2 separate regions of the Homo sapiens genome follow, and region 2 is linked to region 1. The links come from fine-mapping of genetic effects on gene expression. A gene starts in region 1. The other region holds a variant in brackets. All regions are shown on one strand. Distances are between the middles of the regions.

Region 1 (5,377 bases):
AAAGTGCTGGGATTATAGGCATGAACCACCACGCCTAGCAAAAGTTAAAAATTTGAGATCGTTAAAGAAAAGCCTCCATTTAAGGCCTTTGAGTATTTGGGGATCCTATTTGATGGAAGGCAAATTGTAAGTGAAATTACATTGTGCTTCCAATTTGCCACTACCAAATTTTAAAACAATATCCACCTGTGCCCTCATCCTCTCCCACCCACATGGGCTCTCCCTCACCCACTGTGCTTCTTCAACCCTTCCCTGTGTTTAGAACTGGACTCTCTCTTCTTTCTGCCTGTAGGAATATTTTTCTAGACCTGATCTTTAGTATTTCTGAATGTGAGTGCATATGGCTTTACACAAAGAATATGTAGTAGAAAAGCTTCGTGTTGATTACATTTGTATTAATCAGGTGCTTTGAAACCCACTAGAAGGGTATCCTCTTATAGTGCTCCTCACATTGATGCCATGGTGTGAGTCCCTGGATCTGGCTGATTTGAAGCAGGAGGTACCTATGCAGGACTGGGTGCTCCCCAGCCTTTCATGCACCCTCCAGCTTTCCAGACAGCTTGGCGGGATGACAGTGTGCCCTCAACCTTCTCCCACACATCCAACGCTTCCAAGGAGAACAAGGGCATCATTGATTTCAGGCGCTGGTAGGAATGTGCAGGGGCGGGCAGGCTTCCAGCACTCAAGCTTCCCTTGAAGATAGAAAATGCAAGGCTACCAGGAGCACTGAGAGGCCCCAGGCTGGGCCCAGCCAGGAATCCACCGGGAAATGCTCTTGCCTGGCTTCCGGAGCCTCAGGGCTGGAGCGGACACAGGGCTCCTGTCTTGGTGCCTTCAGTGGCTGGGCTGGCCTGGGAGTCTGGGGCAGAAGTTTATTTAAAGAACCTACTCTGAGTTCTGTGGGTGGCGCAGATCCAAAAATTTCATATATATTCAATGTCAGACTAAGCATTTTTCTGTGTGGCAGCAAAAATCTTTTACATAATTAGCTCATTTAAGCCTCACACATGTTTATGAGGTAGGATCACTATCATTTTACACTCAGTTGAGGAAACTGAGTCAAAGAGAAGAATGAAACCGACCTGAAATCACACAGCCAGTAACAAGGGGGGCTGGGAATGAACGCAGAGCCCTCCCACCCCAAGGTCCAAGTTCATGGCCGCTAGCAAGCATACAGCCAGCATAGAAGGAGATGAAGAGCACAGACCTTGTACCTTGCTTCCTGGCTCAGATCCCAGCTCTGCCACTTTTCAGCTGCGTGACTTTAGCAGGCTGCTAAACCTTTCTGTGCATCAGTTTTTTTGAGAGTAAAATGAGATAATAATAGGAGCTAGCACATGAGGCTGTATGTGGATTAAATCAATTAATATAAGTGAGTGCTGAAAACAGCCCCTGGTGTGTGTGTGTGTGTGTGTGTGTGTGTGTGTGTGTGTGTGTGTGTGTGTGCTGTGTGTCTGCTGTCGTACATCCTAAATACGACTTCTCATTCCTGCACAATCTTGTTTTGTTAGCTCCTTCTCCACCTGTCAGTGAAGAACATCTAACACCTGAAACCCTTGCCAATTATTTTGGAAAGAGACTTTCTGGAGGAGGTCAGCCAATGCCACTTTCCAGCTGTTGTATCTTCTTTCCATCCAGCTGGACATTGCTAGATGATATCTGCTGCTTGCAAAGGTGCTGGGAGGCCTTGCTTCCAGGGCTTGGTGGGCACCATGTTACCCAGAGGAGACGGTGCCCAGCCAGCCTCTGCCACATGGGTGACTGGGCACCACCCCTGCTGCTGATGCCACTGGCACTCCCCAGGCAGAGGCAGCTCTGTTCTCTGAAGCCCTCATTGTGCCAGAGCCATATGGGGCCACCGCCGGCCACCTGCCTGCAGGGCCTGACATAGCACTTGAGGGAATTGGCTTTTGGTTTTTCCCACAGAATCCATGAACTCATGGGAGGCTGCGCTGTGAGTCAGAAATGAGAATTAACCCTCCTCTCCATTGCCGGAAGCCCTGTTATTATCCCCCAGCCCCATCTTCCTCATTCCCCGACTTCGCCTCCTCCCCACCTCCTTCAGTCAGAAGTCCTCAACCCGACTCCCTGTGAAGGCCCGTGGGATGGCCTTGGGGGACCTGCACTCTAACACTGGACATGTGCAAATCCTGGGAAGATGCTTACAGTTATCAGCATCCTCTCAAAAGAGGTTCATCACCTGAAAAAGTCAAGGACACTGGCTTCTATAGGATGAGCCAACCAGTTAGGTTGCATCCTCCGGGAAAGGCTCCCAGATAGAGTTATGTGTGCAGAGGGGCTATAGCTGAGTAACTCCTGTGGAGGGGCCAGGGGAGAAGTAAGCCAGCCCCACAGAGAGCTCTGGAGCACAGACCACCCAGGAGAGGAATCCCGTGGTGGGCAGAAATGCCAGGCCTTTGGGCCACTGCCTTGCTCTTATGTGGGCCTGGGCCAGCCCAAGGAGGGCACAGTCCTTTTTGAAAGCTGAAGCTTAGTCTGACGAGCTGTGAGTGGACAGCTGTCAGTAGCCACGCTCCTTGTAGCTGGGCCTGGAATCCTTCCTGGAAGGGGAGTGCGGTGCCTGCTGCATGGCCCTGGGCAGCTGCTGTGCACAGCTGCTGGCGGACCCTCACCAAGGTCCATCAGACCTGCCAAGGCAAACCTGAATCCTATATGTGACTCCATCTAAGCCAAGCTGGGACTCTTCCACTCTTAACTTGGAAAATGTGCATTCCCAGCTGCTAGGTCCTGAACTTGACCTGGGGAAGAGAACGACAAGGCCATGCTTGGGCAGGAGAAGCTAGGTGTAGGCAAGGGAATCTTTACCTTATGAATGGGTTGTATACATGTTGCTTGTTGTTTAGAGAGTGGAATACATTTTGTCCTGGAAATCCTACTATAAATGGGGGGATGCGTACCTGGGCCTTCTTGCAAAAGCCTGTTAAATTCCTAATGATGTTGAAATGGTGGGAAGGGTCATCCAGGGAGGACCTCCACGCCCGCCCATCTCCTCTGGGTTGCCCGGGCAATCCTGCAGGAGCCGAGGCTGGACGCAGCTGACCCCAACAGACAGGAGAAACAAGCCAGCACCACCGGAGAGAACCAGGCTGAAAGGGTGACCCAGGGCTTCCGTGGCCTAGAATGAGAGAGACATCGCATGGCGCAAGGTTCCAAGTAGGGTTCGCGGCGGGGAGGGCCCCTGCCGCAAAGGGACTCAGTGTTGTGCGAGGGAGGTGAAGTCGCTTCTTGATCAGCCGTATTTCTTGCCTACACTTGACACCGTCACCAGCCCAGGCGCCTTTCCGGTCACCCTCACGGAAAGGCTCATCCACGCTGGAAGGAGGGAACCTCCTCGTTAACCTCTAGCATGCCGGTGCCTGCCACCCCAGGGCGCGGGAGCCCGCAGGAGCAGGCGTGTGGACGTCCTGAGAGCTGCCACTAGATGGCGCGTCTGCCCTGCCTACTCAGGAGCCCCGCTCAGGGCACCGGGTGCGGGAGCCCGGCTAATTGCCCTCTAATGAGAAGGCTGCTCCCAAAGTGCCCTCCTCGCAGGGAAAGCCCCAGGCTCCTATCAAAGGGAATGGCTTATTTATCCTCTAACGTGAAGAAACTTCCACACAGCATCAATTAAACACATTAAATGTGACCAGAGTGAGAAAACATCTAAAGGATAGAATATTGAATTGTTGCCACTGACAAATATCAAACCACCCATTCTGGTCTCGGTGGCGTGTACAGTTGACCTTGAACAACACAGGTTTGAACTGTGTGTGTCCAGTTAGAGGTGGACCTTCTTCTGCCTCTGCCACCCCTGAGAAGCGGGACCAACCCCTCCTCTTCCTCCTCCTCCTCAGCCTACTCAGAAGACCACAAGGCTGAAGGCCTTCATGGCGATCCACTTCCACTTAATGAGTAGTCGATATACTTTCTCTTCCTTATGATTTTTTAAATAACAATTTCTTTTCTTTAGCTTACTTTATTGTAAGAATATAGTATATAATACATTAACATACAAAATATGTGTGAATCGACTATTTATGTTATCAATAAGGCTTCCAGTCAACAGTAGGCTATTAGTAGTTCAGTTTGGGGGAGTCAAAAGTTGTATATAGATTTTAAACTGTGTGGGGATTGGCACCCCTAAAGCCTTCATTACTCAAGAGTCAACTGTAGGTGGGCCCTGGGAAGGTTCTCAATTTTTTTTTTTTTTTGAGACAGAGTCTGTTTCTGTCACACAGGCTGGAGTGCGGTGGTATGATTTCAGTTCACTGCAACTTCCGCTTCCAGGATTCAAGCAATTCTCCTGCCTCAGCCTCCGAGAAGCTGTGACTACAGGTGCGTGCCACCATGCCCGGATAATTTTTGTATTTTTAGTGGAGACGGGGTTTCGCCATGTTGGCCAGGCTCGTCTCAAACTCCTGACCTCAAGTGATTCACCAGCCTTGGCCTCCCAAAGTGCTGGAATTAAAGGTGTGAGCCACTGTGCCTGGACGGTTCTCAAATTTTCTGAGATCAGATGGAGTCTGCCCCTCCACCTGGCAGGCTGAAGGCTGGGGCTTGCAGAGATGTGGTGTCTGTTACCCCAGACACTGCAGGTGACCTTGCCTCTTACTAACTTTTCTTATCAGTACCATTTGGACCCTCACACTCATGAGGATGTGGGTGATAATGTGGAGGTTAAATAATATGGTCACTGATGATATTTTCTATACTGTCTGTTTGCAGGGCAGAGTCTTACAGATCTGGACCACAGCAGACCTGAATCAAATAAGAATATGCCCAGATATGGGGTATTCGGGAGCAGATTATGAAACAAGGAAACTGAAGTCCTAAGCAGATCCACAGTTCCAAATTCTGAACCGCTTGAGGCCACATCAGATACAGGATGCTATTATGCTATTAGGGCTGTGGCTTAGTACATTATACAGATGGTGGGGAAAGGCCTGCAGGAGAAAGGCCTACCATTCCTGGATTCCAAAAATAGTGGTCTCCTAAGCAATCGATCTGCTTTTATGTTTAATATTCATCTGTTTCCCTTTCCCAGTTAACTCCTAGAGCCAAACTCACGGCCCACAGGAAGGAACCATATCAACCTGCACGGTGTGCTTTTAATTTCCCTCACCTTGTTCCAGCCTCTATTTTATGTTGCCACTCTTTTCTTTCCTTTCTTTTTTGCTCAGGCTTTTAGTACATATTTAACTTTTATTTTATGTCTCCTCCTCTTCAAACCACCTTAAGTCCTTTTTGGAATAGAGCAGAACACAAATAAAATAGGTGTCAGATACATTCTCTCTGTGACCTTGCATTGGGTCAAAGGACTCATGAATGTGTGTTACCTGTAATCTTTTGTGGAAAAGAGGATTTTAAAATTCTCTGC
Region 2 (5,377 bases), 37 kb after region 1:
GTGAGGCTTCATCTGTATTAAAAATTAAACAACAACAACAAAAAATTAGCCAGGTATGGTGGTGCCAGTAGTCCCAGCTACTTGGGAGGCTGAGATGGGAGGATTGCTTGAGCCCAGGTGATGGAGGCCGCAGTGAGATGTGATCATGCCATGGCACTCCAGTCTGGGCAACAGAGCAGGAACCTGTCTCAAAAAAAAAAATAAAAAAATAAAATAAATCTGACAGAGGTGGCTATGGAGACTGTCCAGGAGAGAGAATGGTGGGCCCAGGTGACAGGGATAGCAGTGGAGATGGTGAGATGTGGCAGAGGTGGGTTGGCCGTTAAAGGTGGAGCTGATGGAGCTTGGGGATGATTGACTGTGGGTGGGAGGGCGGAAAGGAATGGAGGAAGGTTCCTTTGTTTGGGGCCTGAGTGACCACCAATGGGACAGTTATTGAGATGATGCTATGGCCTGAATGTTGGTGTCCCCCCAAAATTCAAGTTGAAATCGAATCCTCAATGTGATGAGATTAAGAGGTAAGGCCTTTAGGAAGTGATTAGGTCATGAAGGTGGAGCCCTCATGAGTGGTATTAGTGCCTGCGATAGTTTGTAAGTTTCCCCCCTCTAAATCTCAAGTTGAAAGTTAATCCCTAGTGTGGCAGTGTTGGAGGTGGGGTATCGTTGGAGGTGTTTGGGTCATGGAGGCAGGTCGCTCATCAATAGATTAATGTCCTCCCTCAGGAGTCAGTGAGCTCTCACTCTATTAGTTTCCCCAGTGCTGGTTGTTAAAAAGAGCCTGGCATCTCTCCCCTCTCTCTCTCGCTTCTGCCCTCAACACGTGATATCTGCACGTGCCAGCTCTCCTTCGTCTTCCCCCATGACTGGAAGCGACATGAGGCTGTCACCAGATGCAGATGCCCAATCTTGAACTTTCCAGCCACCCAGAATAGTGAGCCACATAAAGATTTTTTTTTTTTAAATAGAGACAAGGTCTTGCCCCGTTACCCGGGTTGGAGTGCAGTGGCTCAATCATAACTCACTGCAGCCTTGAACTCCACCCACCTCAGCCTCTCAAGTGGCCGGGACTACAAGCACACTTTACAACACACAGCTAATTTTTTAAAATTTTAGTAGAGATGGGGTAGATGGGGTCTCACTATCTTGCCTAGGCTGGTCTTGAACTCCTGGCCTCAAACAATCCTGCTGTTTTGGCCTCCTAAAGGATTAGGGTTACAGGATAAGCCTCCATGCCTGGCCACTTTTTAAAATAAAATAAATTACTCAACCTCAGATGTTCCTTTTAGCAACACAAAATGGACTAAGATAGTGACCTTATTAAAAAAAAAAAAAAGAGAGAGAGAGAGAAAGAAAGAAACAAAAAAAAGCCCAAGGAGCTTCTCGTCCTCTCCTTCCACTGTGTAAGGCGGTAGCGATAAGGCACTGTCTATAAACTGGAAAGCAGGACCTCATTAGACACCGAATCTGCCAGAAACTTGATCTTGGATTTCCAGCCTCTAGAACTGTGAGAAGTAAAGTTTTGTTGTTCAAAAGCCCCCAGTTATGGTGTTTTGTTATAGCAGCCTGAGCTGACTACGAGGAAGACAGATGAGGAAAGCATAGGGTAGGGATAATTGTAAAAACCCAGTTGCACAGATTATCTCTTTGCAACCAGGGAGAATCTCAGTATGAATAATCCTATTTTAGTCTAAATGGAGAGGAGGGAGGAGTTCACTTGTATGTCTCAGCTTCATCTGTTCTTTCACTGTGCCCTTTCCCACAGGAGATAGAAAAATGGTTAATGGTGGCTCACGTCTGTAATCCCAGCACTTTGGGAGGCTGAGGTGGGCGGATCACTTGAGGTCAGGAGTTCAAGACCAGCCTGGCCAACATGGCAAAACCTCGTCTCTACTAAAAATACAAAAATTAGCCAGGCGTGGCAGTGTGTGTCTGTAATCCCAGCTACTTGGAGTTGAGGCACAAGAATTACTTGAACCTGGGAGGCAGAGGCTGCAGTGAGCCAGTGAGCAGAGATCAAGCCACTGCACTCCAGCCTGGGTAACAGAGCCAGACCCTGTCTCAAAAAAAAAAAGAAATTTCTCTGTCTGCCAGGAGGTGGAGGAAACCACAGCCTCCTTTCTTCCCAGGTGGTCATACGTATGAATTCACTCACACACACACACTGCTGCTGCCCAAAAACCTCAGCATCACAACCATTCAGCTTCTTTTGACTCAGTGACGTAGGCAGAATCCCAAAATAACCCCCCCGTGACCCACACTTCTGCAGAATCCCCTTCCGTGGAGTGCAGGCAGAACCTGGTTGCAATTTCACTCCTTTCACTAAGTTATGTTATACGGTAAACATGAAGGGACTTTGCAGATGTAATTAAGATCTCTAATCAGTTGACTTAAAGCTCACTTGGGCCTGGCCTAATCAGATAGGCCTTTAAAAAAGGGTCTAAAGTTCACTTAAAAAAAATATGCTAATCATGTTCTCCTATTGGCCTTAAAGACATAAATGGCCATGTTGTAGAGAAACCTGTGCCAGAGAAAAGGCTTCTAGAGACTGAAGACTGTAGGCTTTAGTCTTCCAACTGGAAAGAACTGAATTCTGCCAACAACCAGTGAGCTTGGAAGAGAATCCTGAGCTTCAGCTGAGATCACAGCTTTGGTTGCCCTCTGATTACAGCCTAGTAAGACCTCTGACCCAGAAAAACTGTCAGATAATAAATTTATATTGTTTTGAGTCCCTACATTTGCAAGAATTTGCTATGCAGGAATTGAAAACTAGTGTAATAAAATAATAATAATGGCTTTTATTGAGCACTTATATTGTGCTAAACCTTTTCAATTGCTTTACCTCATTATTCCTCACAACCCCATGAGTTTGGCACTATTATTATCCCAATGTAACACATGCAAAATTGAGGCTTAGGGAGAAGTCACAGAACTGATGGTGGGATACAGCAGGCACTCTGAAGACAGGGAGTTTGAGCATTACACAATGCTGTCTTCAATTAGAAGCTGTCCCTCATCAGAAGCTGTGCACCTGAGACTCCTCTTCATAATTATGAAGGCTGCTCTCCCCTCCCCTTAATG[C/G]CTTAGACATGCACTCTGGCCCCAGGCCCCAAGTAGTGCCTCTGATGGGCCATTGCATCATTTCCTCTCCCCACCTTCTGGAAGCCCCACAGTCAGCTTGGACAGCATGACCTCTGAAAGCTAAGATGTCCCCAGGGTCCACTGGGCATATTATAACCTAGCTCACACGTCGGGTGTCTGATTTACTTTAGTTTTCCCAGGATCATCCCAGTTGTAAAACTGAAAGCCCAAAGAGAGTTTGGTGAATGGGTACAAATACACAGTTCAATAGGAGTAAGTTCCAATGTCTGACAGCCGGGTTGGGTGACTGTAGCTAACAAAATGGACTGTCTATTTCAAAATAGCTGGAACTGAGAACTTGAAATGTTCTCAACACATAGAAATGATAATCAAGGTGATGAAGACCCTAAATGCCCTGACTTCATCATTACACAATCCACACACATAATAAAGTATCACATGCACCCCACAAATACCTACAAATATGTGTATCAATAAAAATAATTTTTAAAAAACCGAAAGGACCACATCCCAGGAAAACTCCTCAATGCCAGGCCAATCAGGATTATTGATCACCTGACCACCTTCCAAACCAAGCCCAGGCATGAGAAGGCCTGGGGGCCACTTCCATCCTGCAATGTCCCATGCCTTCCCTATCAGCAAGAAGAAAAGAAAAGCCCAGCTTGGATGGTAGAGCACTGCTCTTTAGAGAGCACTCAGAGCAGAAGCAACTATCCTGAAGCAGTCAATGCCAAGGAGCTCCTGCTGGATGAGGTCTGGCAGTGCAAGCCAGGAGGGGCTTCAGCCTGGACCATCAGACAGGCCTGGAAAGCAAGGCTCATTCAGGCCCTCTCCCTTGAATTGAGAGATCCTCTTGCCTGAGCATCATACATGAGGCACATGGATTCAGGCCTCAGACCACGCCAGACTCCACATTCCATCATCTCTGCTGCCCAAGCAGGCAACTGGAGGAGAGCTGGGGGAGGCTTCACATCCTTCCTAGGATTGTGACTGTCATGATACTCATCTGGGGAATAACACAGACCCACCTATTACTGTCCAGCTCGATTGAGAGTTCAATCCTGATGAATGGCTCCCCTATAAGAGCTGGCTTCTCTGTTGGGGATCCTGGAATCTTGACTACACCCCGCCATCTTCCAAGCTGTGCTGTTTCTGCCAAGTGGCACCTGTCATGACAGTGGCTGGATCACTGTCACTATGAACTGAGTGACCAGTGGGACATTTACTGAGATGGTGCTATGGTCTGAGTGTTTGCACTCTCCCCAAATTCACATGTTGAAATCAAATCCCCAGTGTGATGGCATTAGGTGGTAGGGCCTTTGGGAAGAGGCCCATATTGTGGGACAAATCTGTCCACACTGTGGGAAATGGCTCAACACACATACTTCATTAAATACAGCCAGTTAGCGATTCATAAACTCATTCATTCATTTATTCATTGGTTTGCCAATATTTGGGGGCACGTATGACGGTCCTCGCATTATCTTAGGTTCCCACAGGGAATTACAGAACATTTTAAACTGTATAACATGGAAGTGCTGGGCACGATGCTAGTATATGAAGATACCAACCTAATTCACATGGCTGTGTGAAGAGGGATGGATGTCATAAAAGATCTTCAAGTAATTTTTCCAGAAGCCAGATGTGTATTTTTTTTAATTTGAGATGGAGTCTCACTCTGTTGCCCAAGCTGGAGTGCAGTGGCATGATCTTGGCTCACTGCAACCTCTACCTCCCGGGTTCAAGCAATTCTCCTGCCTCAACCTCCCAAGTAGCTGGGATTATAAGCATCCACCAGCATACCTGGCTAATTTTTGTATTTTTAGTACAGACAGGCTTTCACCATATTGGCCAGGCTGGTCTTAATTCCTGACCTCAAGTGATCCACCTGCCTCGGCCTCCCAAAGTGCTGGGATTACAGGTATGAGCCACCACACCTGGCCAGGATGTGTATTTTTAATATTATCATTTAGTTTGAGGAAAACAAACTAGTCGTTTGTGGGTATAGAGATAAATCCCCCAAAAGCCATTAACAAAACCCCTCAACTATCAGCTTAAAACATGTCTCTGCATTTTATTTTAAGAAAACACAAACCTGGTCACAAAACATCTTCAGAGAACAGGATAAGTGAAGAAACAAACAAAATGCATGGGAATAGCAAATTTGGGGCCACGGTCATGTTCAAGGGGCGGAGCTGACATGACATCATTTTGTTCCCGGAAAAGCAAGGTTAACTCAAGCTGTGAAGCCCAGATGGCCAATAGATTTACAGCCATC

The links.
Region 2: its variant is fine-mapped to the expression of LINC00398 in whole blood (INTERVAL, PIP 0.92).

Annotation. Positions count from the first base shown.
Region 1 is chr13:30,801,134-30,806,510 of GRCh38, reverse strand. LINC00398 (long intergenic non-protein coding RNA 398) reads right to left here and starts at 3,305. Exons shown (of 2, transcript NR_047012.1): 1 at 2,919-3,305. RefSeq lists an enhancer at 752-1,252 and a silencer at 3,411-3,530.
Region 2 is chr13:30,764,198-30,769,574 of GRCh38, reverse strand. ALOX5AP (arachidonate 5-lipoxygenase activating protein) reads right to left here. Exons shown (of 5, transcript NM_001629.4): 5 at 5,149-5,377. Among named protein-coding and RNA genes, the nearest start is that of ALOX5AP, 31 kb to the right of the region's middle. The variant C/G (reference allele first, on the strand shown) is at 3,079.